Homo sapiens: one gene and its partner. The protein of the gene in region 1 purifies or fractionates together with the protein of each later gene. This does not show direct contact. Each region holds a gene or a part of one and is shown on either strand. Other genes may lie near its edges.

The links.
Region 2: the proteins of ERCC6L (region 1) and EIF4B purify together in Homo sapiens (affinity purification with mass spectrometry; one large-scale study listed by BioGRID and IntAct). This does not show direct contact.

The regions. Positions count from the first base shown.
Region 1 is NC_000023.11:72,211,297-72,215,114, reverse strand, and holds part of ERCC6L (DNA excision repair protein ERCC-6-like), read left to right. Parts: intron 1-3,818. UniProt on the Homo sapiens protein: DNA helicase that acts as a tension sensor that associates with catenated DNA which is stretched under tension until it is resolved during anaphase. Functions as ATP-dependent DNA translocase. Can promote Holliday junction branch migration (in vitro).
Region 2 is NC_000012.12:53,012,953-53,016,770, forward strand, and holds part of EIF4B (eukaryotic translation initiation factor 4B), read left to right. Parts: intron 1-3,520; coding exon 3,521-3,658; intron 3,659-3,818. UniProt on the Homo sapiens protein: Required for the binding of mRNA to ribosomes. Functions in close association with EIF4-F and EIF4-A. Binds near the 5'-terminal cap of mRNA in presence of EIF-4F and ATP.

The DNA of each region.
Region 1 (3,818 bases):
CTCAGCATGTTTTTGAGATTCATACATGTATAAATTCATACATGTAGTAGTTTGTTCTTTTCTATTATTGAGTCCTTTGTATGAATATATCACAGATTGGTGGGTTTTTTTGTTTGTTTGTTTGTTTTGAGTCAGAGTCTTGCTTTTTCATCCAGGCTGGAGTGCAGTGGCTTGATCTTGGCTCACTGCAACCTCCATCTCCTGAGTTCAAGCGATTTTCCTGCCTCAGCCTCCTAAGTAGCTAGGATTACAGGAACCCGTCACCACACCTGGCTAATTTTTGTATTTTTAGTAGAGATGGTGTTCCACCATGATGGCAGGGCTAATCTCGAACTCCTGACCTCAAGTGATCTGCCCACCTCGGCCTCCCAAAGTGCTAGGATTACAGGTGTGAGCCACCGTGCCTGGCCTAAACTTTTGTTTTGTTTTTTTTTTTTTTTTTGAGATGGAGTCTCACTCTGTCATCCAGGCTGGAGTGCTGTGGCATGATCTCGGCTCACTGCAACTTCCGCCTCCCTGGTTCACATGATTCTCCTGCCTTTGCCTCCAGAGTAGATGGGATTACAGGTGCCTGCCACCATGCCTGGCTAATTTTTGTATTTTTAGTAGAGATGGGTTTCACCATGTTGGCCAGGCTGGTCTCAAACTCCTGACTTCAGGTGATCCAACCGCCTCGGCCTCCCAAAGTGCTGGGGTTGTTTCCAGTTTTTGGCTATTAAGAGTAAAGCAACATTGTTTGTTTTTTTGACTCTTAAATGCCTGTCTTATAAATGGCGCTAAGCAGGGAAAAGCTAATTATTAAATATTGTTTGACTGAAATGTGAACCACATTTTTCCCTAATTTATGTCAGAAATCACTATTTAATAATATTGTTTGTGTTTATATGTGATTTTAAAATGATCCCCACCTTAATTAAAATGACCATCCCTGAAAGTGAAGCCAAAAGGAAGGAATCCTCCTAGCCTACTCTGCCATGACTTGGGCTTTAAATGGACCTGTTTTCAATACTGGCATTCAGGTCACCTGCAATTTTTATGTTATCCAAATGTTTTATGTTTTATTGATTTTGATGGAGAATCAAAAGACATCTGTTGTGTCTAATGCATCTACATGCATCTTGACAAGGGGACTGGACATAGAGACATGTCAGGGAGCAGATACTCCAGGAGCTGGATCAGTATAGGGAAACTGTTAACGGACAGGTCTTTGTTCTCAGAGCTCCCAAGATAGTGGTGGGCCGCTCCCAAGATGGCAGCAAGCCTTTTGTTCTCTGACCTGGGGTTCTTGGCCTCACGGATTCCAAGGAATGGAACCTTGGGCCACATGGTGAGTGTTATAGCTCTATTAGAAGCCGTGGGTCATGGAAGAGAACCGTGGAACCCAGCAACTAGTGTTCAGCTGGATTAGGACGAACCCGGGCACTTAGCCATGCAGGAACAATGGCGAGCCTTTAGCCCGATTGGGAGCGGCAATGGGCGCCTTGCTATATCAGAAACGCAGCGGACACCCTGCCATATCTGGAGGGGTGGAAGTCAGCGATGGGTCTGCAACGGTGGCAAACAGCAGTGGTGGACGGTGAGCGAAAGCTCAGCTCGAGCCGTAACAAACACAGACCAGAAGAGTGTGCAGTTGCAAGATTTAATAGAGTGAAAACAGAGCTCCCATACAATGGGAGGGACCCAGACGAGGTTGCCCCTCCCGGCTCGAATGCCTGGATTTATATCCCGATCATTTTCCCTCCCCCTGTGCTCTCGGGCGATATATGATTTGACTATTTCTTTACCTCCTGCTTTTAGCCTAATTTGTATTTCAGTGAGCCCTCTTTACTACCTGATTGGTTGGGTGTGAGCTGAGTTATAAGCCCTGTATTTAAAGGTAGGTGTAGTCACCTTCCCCAGCTAGGCTTAGGAATTCTTAGTCAGCCTAGGAAATCCAGCAAGTCCTGTCTCTCAAAACTGGGTTCTTGTTGAGAGGACAGCAATAACCCCACTCACATGCGCCGAGATTAGCAGGTCTAGGCTCCTCCACCCCTATATGGGCCTAGTGGCTGGTGGCCAGATTACAAAACAAAGAGCATTTCTGATTGTTTTGCATGTGAAGAAAACAAAGTTTTATTGAGTTAGGGTCTTTGCATTCAGTTCTCTGTCTCTTCACATTCTTTTTTTTTTGAGACAGGGTCTGGCTCTGTAGCCCAGGCTGGAGTGCAGTGGTGACACGATCATAGCTCAATGCAACCCCTGCCTCCCAGGCTCAAGCCATCCCTCCCACCTTAGCCTCCCAGTAGCTGGGTCTAGGCGCATGCCACCAAACCCGGCTAATTTTTTTTCTATTTTTTGTAGAGACCAGGGCTTCACTATGTTGCCCAGGCTAGTCTCAAACTCCTGGGCTCAAGCAATCTGCCCGCCTTGGCCTCCCAAAGTACTGGGATTAGAGGCTCAAGCCACCGCTCCCAGCTGTCTCTTCACATTCTAAAATAACTTTGTAGGGAATGTTCTAAAGGGCCCTCCATAGCAAGGAAAATCAAGTGTGTGTCTTCTGCAACTTAAGCTTGTGTGCCTTTTCAGCTGCTCATTTGTAAACACTGTGTGTTTAACTTAGCTTAGCTCTTTGGGGCATAGGTCTAATAGTATGGCTTATGGGTTTCTCCAGATAGAAAAACTTTTCAGCATCTGAACTGGCAGACCCTCTGTGGAGAAGAAAGGTTTCTCAAGGTATCAGCCAGTTCCAAAGGGAGGTGGATTAGATGTTGAGAGGTTAATTGGCTATGGTCAAGGAAAATGTTTGCATCTGAGGAAATAGCTTTGGGGCAGAGATGATTTTATTATTATTATTATTATTTTTTTTGAGATGGGGTCTCGCTGTGGTGCACGGTTGGAGTGTAGTGGTGCGATCTTGGCTCACTGCAACCCCCGCCTTTCACGTGATTCTCATGCCTCAGCCTCCCGAGTAGCTGGGATTACAGGCACCCACCACCATGCCCGGCTAATTTTTTTGTATTTTTAGTAGAGACGGGGTTTCACCATGTTGGCCAGGCTGGTCCTGAACTCCTGACTTCAGGTGATTCAACCGCCTCAGCCTCCCAAAGTGCTGGGATTACAGGCATGAGCCACCATGCCCAGCCACAGAGATGATTTTATATGGCCACTTGGGCAGGGCTTCTTATAGAGAGACCTTTAGGTGGGGTTATGACCCAGGGGGTTAGCAACTGGGCAGTTTTGCCAGCGAAAGTGTAGCTTTCCAGGTAACAGGACTTTGTAGCCCAAGTTTAATTGTTGTATCACCTTCCTCCAGGAGTTGTTTGTATATAATATTTCTTTTTTTTTTTATTTTTGAAACGGGTCTTGCTCTGTCACCCAGGCTGTAGTGCAGTGGTGCGATCATGGCTCACTGCAGCCTAGACCTCCCATGCTGAAGCGAACTTCTTGCCTCAGCCTCCTGAATAGCTGGGACTGACTACAGGTGTGTGCCACTGATATGGTTTGGCTGTGACCCCACCCATAATCTCATCTTGAATTGTAATCCAGATTGTAATCCTCAATCTCATCTTGAATTGTAATCCAGACTGTAATCCTCACGTGTTTGGGGAGACACCTTGTGGGAGGTGATTAGATGTCCTTTAAAATAATCCTTAAAGAGAAACATGCTCTAGTCATATAATTTCAGGTAAAACCATTTAAACATAAAATTTTTGTTTTTATTGTCCATTCCTATGGAATTAAAAACTGACATTTCACCCCATACTCTAGCACTATTCTTCTCCTTGTTCTCTTGCTTGAGGGTTATGGTTCTTTGTCCTGAACTGGTTACTCCTCCCTGT
Region 2 (3,818 bases), on another chromosome or scaffold:
GGGGAGACTTGTGATTTGAAAAGACATTCTAAGATTTAAAAGTGCTTTTAATATTTTTTAGTCATGATATTTAATTTGTTTGGAAATTTCAAATAACGTTAAAGAAGAAACTTGTTTGTCAAAGGAGTCAAGGGGTGAGAGTTGAGAAACTGTGATCTACAAAGTTGATTTAAGCCAAATCGGACTAAAGGGCAGATTAATTCCACATTCTGCTGTTTTGGTAGAAGATACGTATATAGAACAAAGAGGAAAGGGATACCTTATTCAGATTGTTAATGTTCTTTTGTTGAACTTGACCTTATTGTACTGACCACCAGTTCTGTTTTTATCCTCCCAGTGGAAGGACAGGTTAATAATTGGATATTAGCTGATGGTACTAGATTAAGCCCCATGAGGGTAAGGATCTGTAGCTAGCATCATATTAATCCCAGACACTATTTTTGAATTAAATGATATGAAAAAGTCTAAAATAAGCCCACGCACTGTAAGTGGTTTACCTCATGTCTTACTCGTGTTCGCTTATTAAAATCTCCCATAGATCTTTGCATATGAGGCTGGGCACAGTGGCTCATGCCTGTAATCGCAGCATTTTGGGAGGCCGAGGTGGGTGGATCATTTGGGGTCAGGAGTTTGAGACCAGCCTGGCCAACATGGTGAAACCCCATCTCTACTAAAAATACAAAAATTAGCCAGGCTTGGTGGCACATGCCTGTAATCCCAGTTACTCAGGAGGCTGAGGCAGGAGAATCACTTGAACCTGGGAGGCAGAGGTTATAGTGAGCCAAGATGGCGCCACTGCACTCCAGCCTGGACAAGAGTGAGACTCCCTCTAAAAAAAAAAAAAAACCTTTGCATATGAGCTGCAGCAATAAAAGTGCTATGAGACCCAACCTCTCTGTAACCGTATTCTTTGAAAGCTGTGGAATAAGGCCAAGTGCAGTGGCTCACATCTAATCCCAGCACTTTGGAAGGCTGAGACGGGTGGACCACTTGAGGCCAGGAGTTGAAGACCAATCTGGGCAGTGTAGCAAGACCCCTGCCTCTACAAAAAATTTTAAAATTAGCTGGGCATGGTGGTGCATGCCTATAGTCCCAGCTACTCAAGAGGCTACAGTGGGAGAATTGCTTGAGCCCAAAAGGTCAAAGCTGCAGTGAGCCACGATTGCACCACTGCAAAAAAAGAAAAAAGAAAAAGCAGGCCGGGCGCGTTGGCTCACGTCTGTAATCCCAGCACTTTGGGAGGCTAATCACGAGGTCAGGAGATCAAGACCATCCTGGCTAACACTGTGAAACTAAAAAAAAAAAAAAAATTAGCCTGGCGTGGTGGCACGCGCCTGTAGTCCCAGCCACTTGGGAGGCTGAGGCAGGAGAAATTGCTTGAACCTGGGAGGCGGAGGTTGCAGTGAACTGAGATCGCGCCACTGCACTCCAGCCTGTATGACAAAGCGAGACTCCGTCTCAAAAAAAAAAAAAAAAGCGTAGGATGGATTCAAAATGTGATCTGGTTGATCATAAACAATACTTTTGGAGCTGGATTAATATTAAGTCACTTGAGAGATACAGAAAATACCATGTTCGTGGTCAACTTTGATTATTTTAGCCGGGTTCATCTGGTTTGCACATTGAGACCGTAATACTTCAGGTTCTAATTGTGTCCAGAAGGCTATGTGTTAACATTCATAGCAAACTGGTTACCTTTATTTCCTGAAAGTTAAATTTTGAAAGAAAGGGATACCAAGTGAGAAAGCAACCTTCAGTTAAACAAAGGGGTACATCAAGTTTGATATTCTTGGATTAAAAATCAGGTGACAATTGGAACATGGAGGAGAAATTCATGATTATAAAAACCATGAAGCCAATCTTTTTTACAACAAAGCTGCTTGTTTTTTTCTTAATCATGTAGTGGCTGCTATCAGGCCAGTTCTGGAACTTCACTGAGTCCCTCTGCTCTTCTGAATCAGCTCTTGATTGGTGGTGACTTCTCGGAAGTTCTGAGGACCACAAAGAAAGAGCAGTGTCAGTTCACTAAGTTGAGCCATTTGGAGATTACTAAATATTCCATAACTGTGGGAAACACTTAAATGTGTTGGTTATTAGGGTTTTCGTGTGTTTTCCTTTTAGCATTACATCCTCATATGCAGTGTTGTTATAGTAGAGGAGGACATTTTTTCTAGAGGGCAGAGAGATCTAGGGAATATGACTGTTAACATTTGAACACTTTCAAATAGCAGTACGTTTTACTGTGGTTTTGATAACCTGACATAGAATAAGCTGCTGAGATGCAAGGATACCTTGGTATATAGAAAGAGCCTTAGACTTCGTATGAAAAAAACTTAGGTTTTATCTTCAGCCTAGCCATCTAATGTCTCTGTAACTTTACAGACATCTGGTGTTTCACTTAACCTCTCTGAGACTTAGTTTCCTTTTCTGTAAATTGATAGTTGTGGCCAGGCACCATGGCTCATACCTGTAATCCCAGCATTTTGGGAGGCTGAGGCAGGAGGATCACTTGAGCCTGGGATCCTCCAGGATACTTGAGACCAGCCTGGGCAACATAGGGAATTAAAAAACTTTTTAAAAATCAGCTGGGCGTGGTAGTGTGCCTCTGTGGTCCCAGCTATTGAGGAGGCTGTGGGAGGATCACATGAGCATGGGAGGGTTGAGGCTTCAGATAGCCGTGGCCACACCACTGCACTACAGCCTGGACAACAGAGCAAGACCCTGTCTCAAAAAAAAAAAATGGGGCCGGGTGTGGCGGTTCACACCGTAATCCCAGCACTTTCGGAGGCCGAGGCAGGAGGATCACCTGAGGTTAGGAGTTCAAGACCAGCCTGGCCAACATGGTGAAACCCCGTCTCTACTAAAAACACAAAAAATTAGCTGGGCATGGTGGCGGGTGCCTGTAATCCCAAGTATTCGGGAGGCTGAGGCAGGAGAATTGCTTGAACCCAGGAGGCAGGGGTTGCAGTGAGCCGAGATGGCACCATTGCACTCCAGCCTGGACAACAAGAGCAAGACTCTGTCTCAAAAAAAAAAAAAAAAAGACAGTTGTGATTCCTTCCCTATATGGTTTGTTTACAAGTGTCAAAACAGTCTTCAAAACTGCCATACTGAATATGTTATGTGAGATACGAATTTTTATTGATCTTTTTTATCCAAAGAGCAGTGAAAGTAGTAACTGAATAGAAGTAGTTACAAAATTAAAGATCTCAAATGATAAGTGAATATAGTAGAAAATAAAAGGTTGCCCCCACACTCCAAACATACTCTCCAGGGTGTATCTCAAACACTCAGACCCTTTTCCGTACGTAAACATGTGTTTACACATAATAGGTATTCTGCAACTTTTAAATTTCTTATTTATGTCTGCATAGTACCCCTTCATGGAAATGCCATAATTTAACCATTTGAGGAGCGTCCATGTTATTTCTTTCTAAATAATGTTTTACAATATTGCATTGTACAACTCTGTAAATACCTGAGTATTGGTGAATAATCTTTCTCTTGCCTTTTAAAACAGCAAAAAAGAAGAATAAGAAGGGGAAGACTATCTCCCTAACAGACTTTCTGGCTGAGGATGGGGGTACTGGTGGAGGAAGCACCTATGTTTCCAAACCAGTCAGCTGGGCTGATGAAACGGATGACCTGGAAGGAGATGGTAACTTTTCTTTTGTCATCGTGTTTGGAATGTTTATTATTTTCTAGACAAAACCTATTACATAATAATTCACATCGTTTGTAATCTGAAAAGAACTTACTCATTTTTTAGCACCTGAAATCTTACATATTTTATAGAATCTAAGGTTTAATCTGAGGTT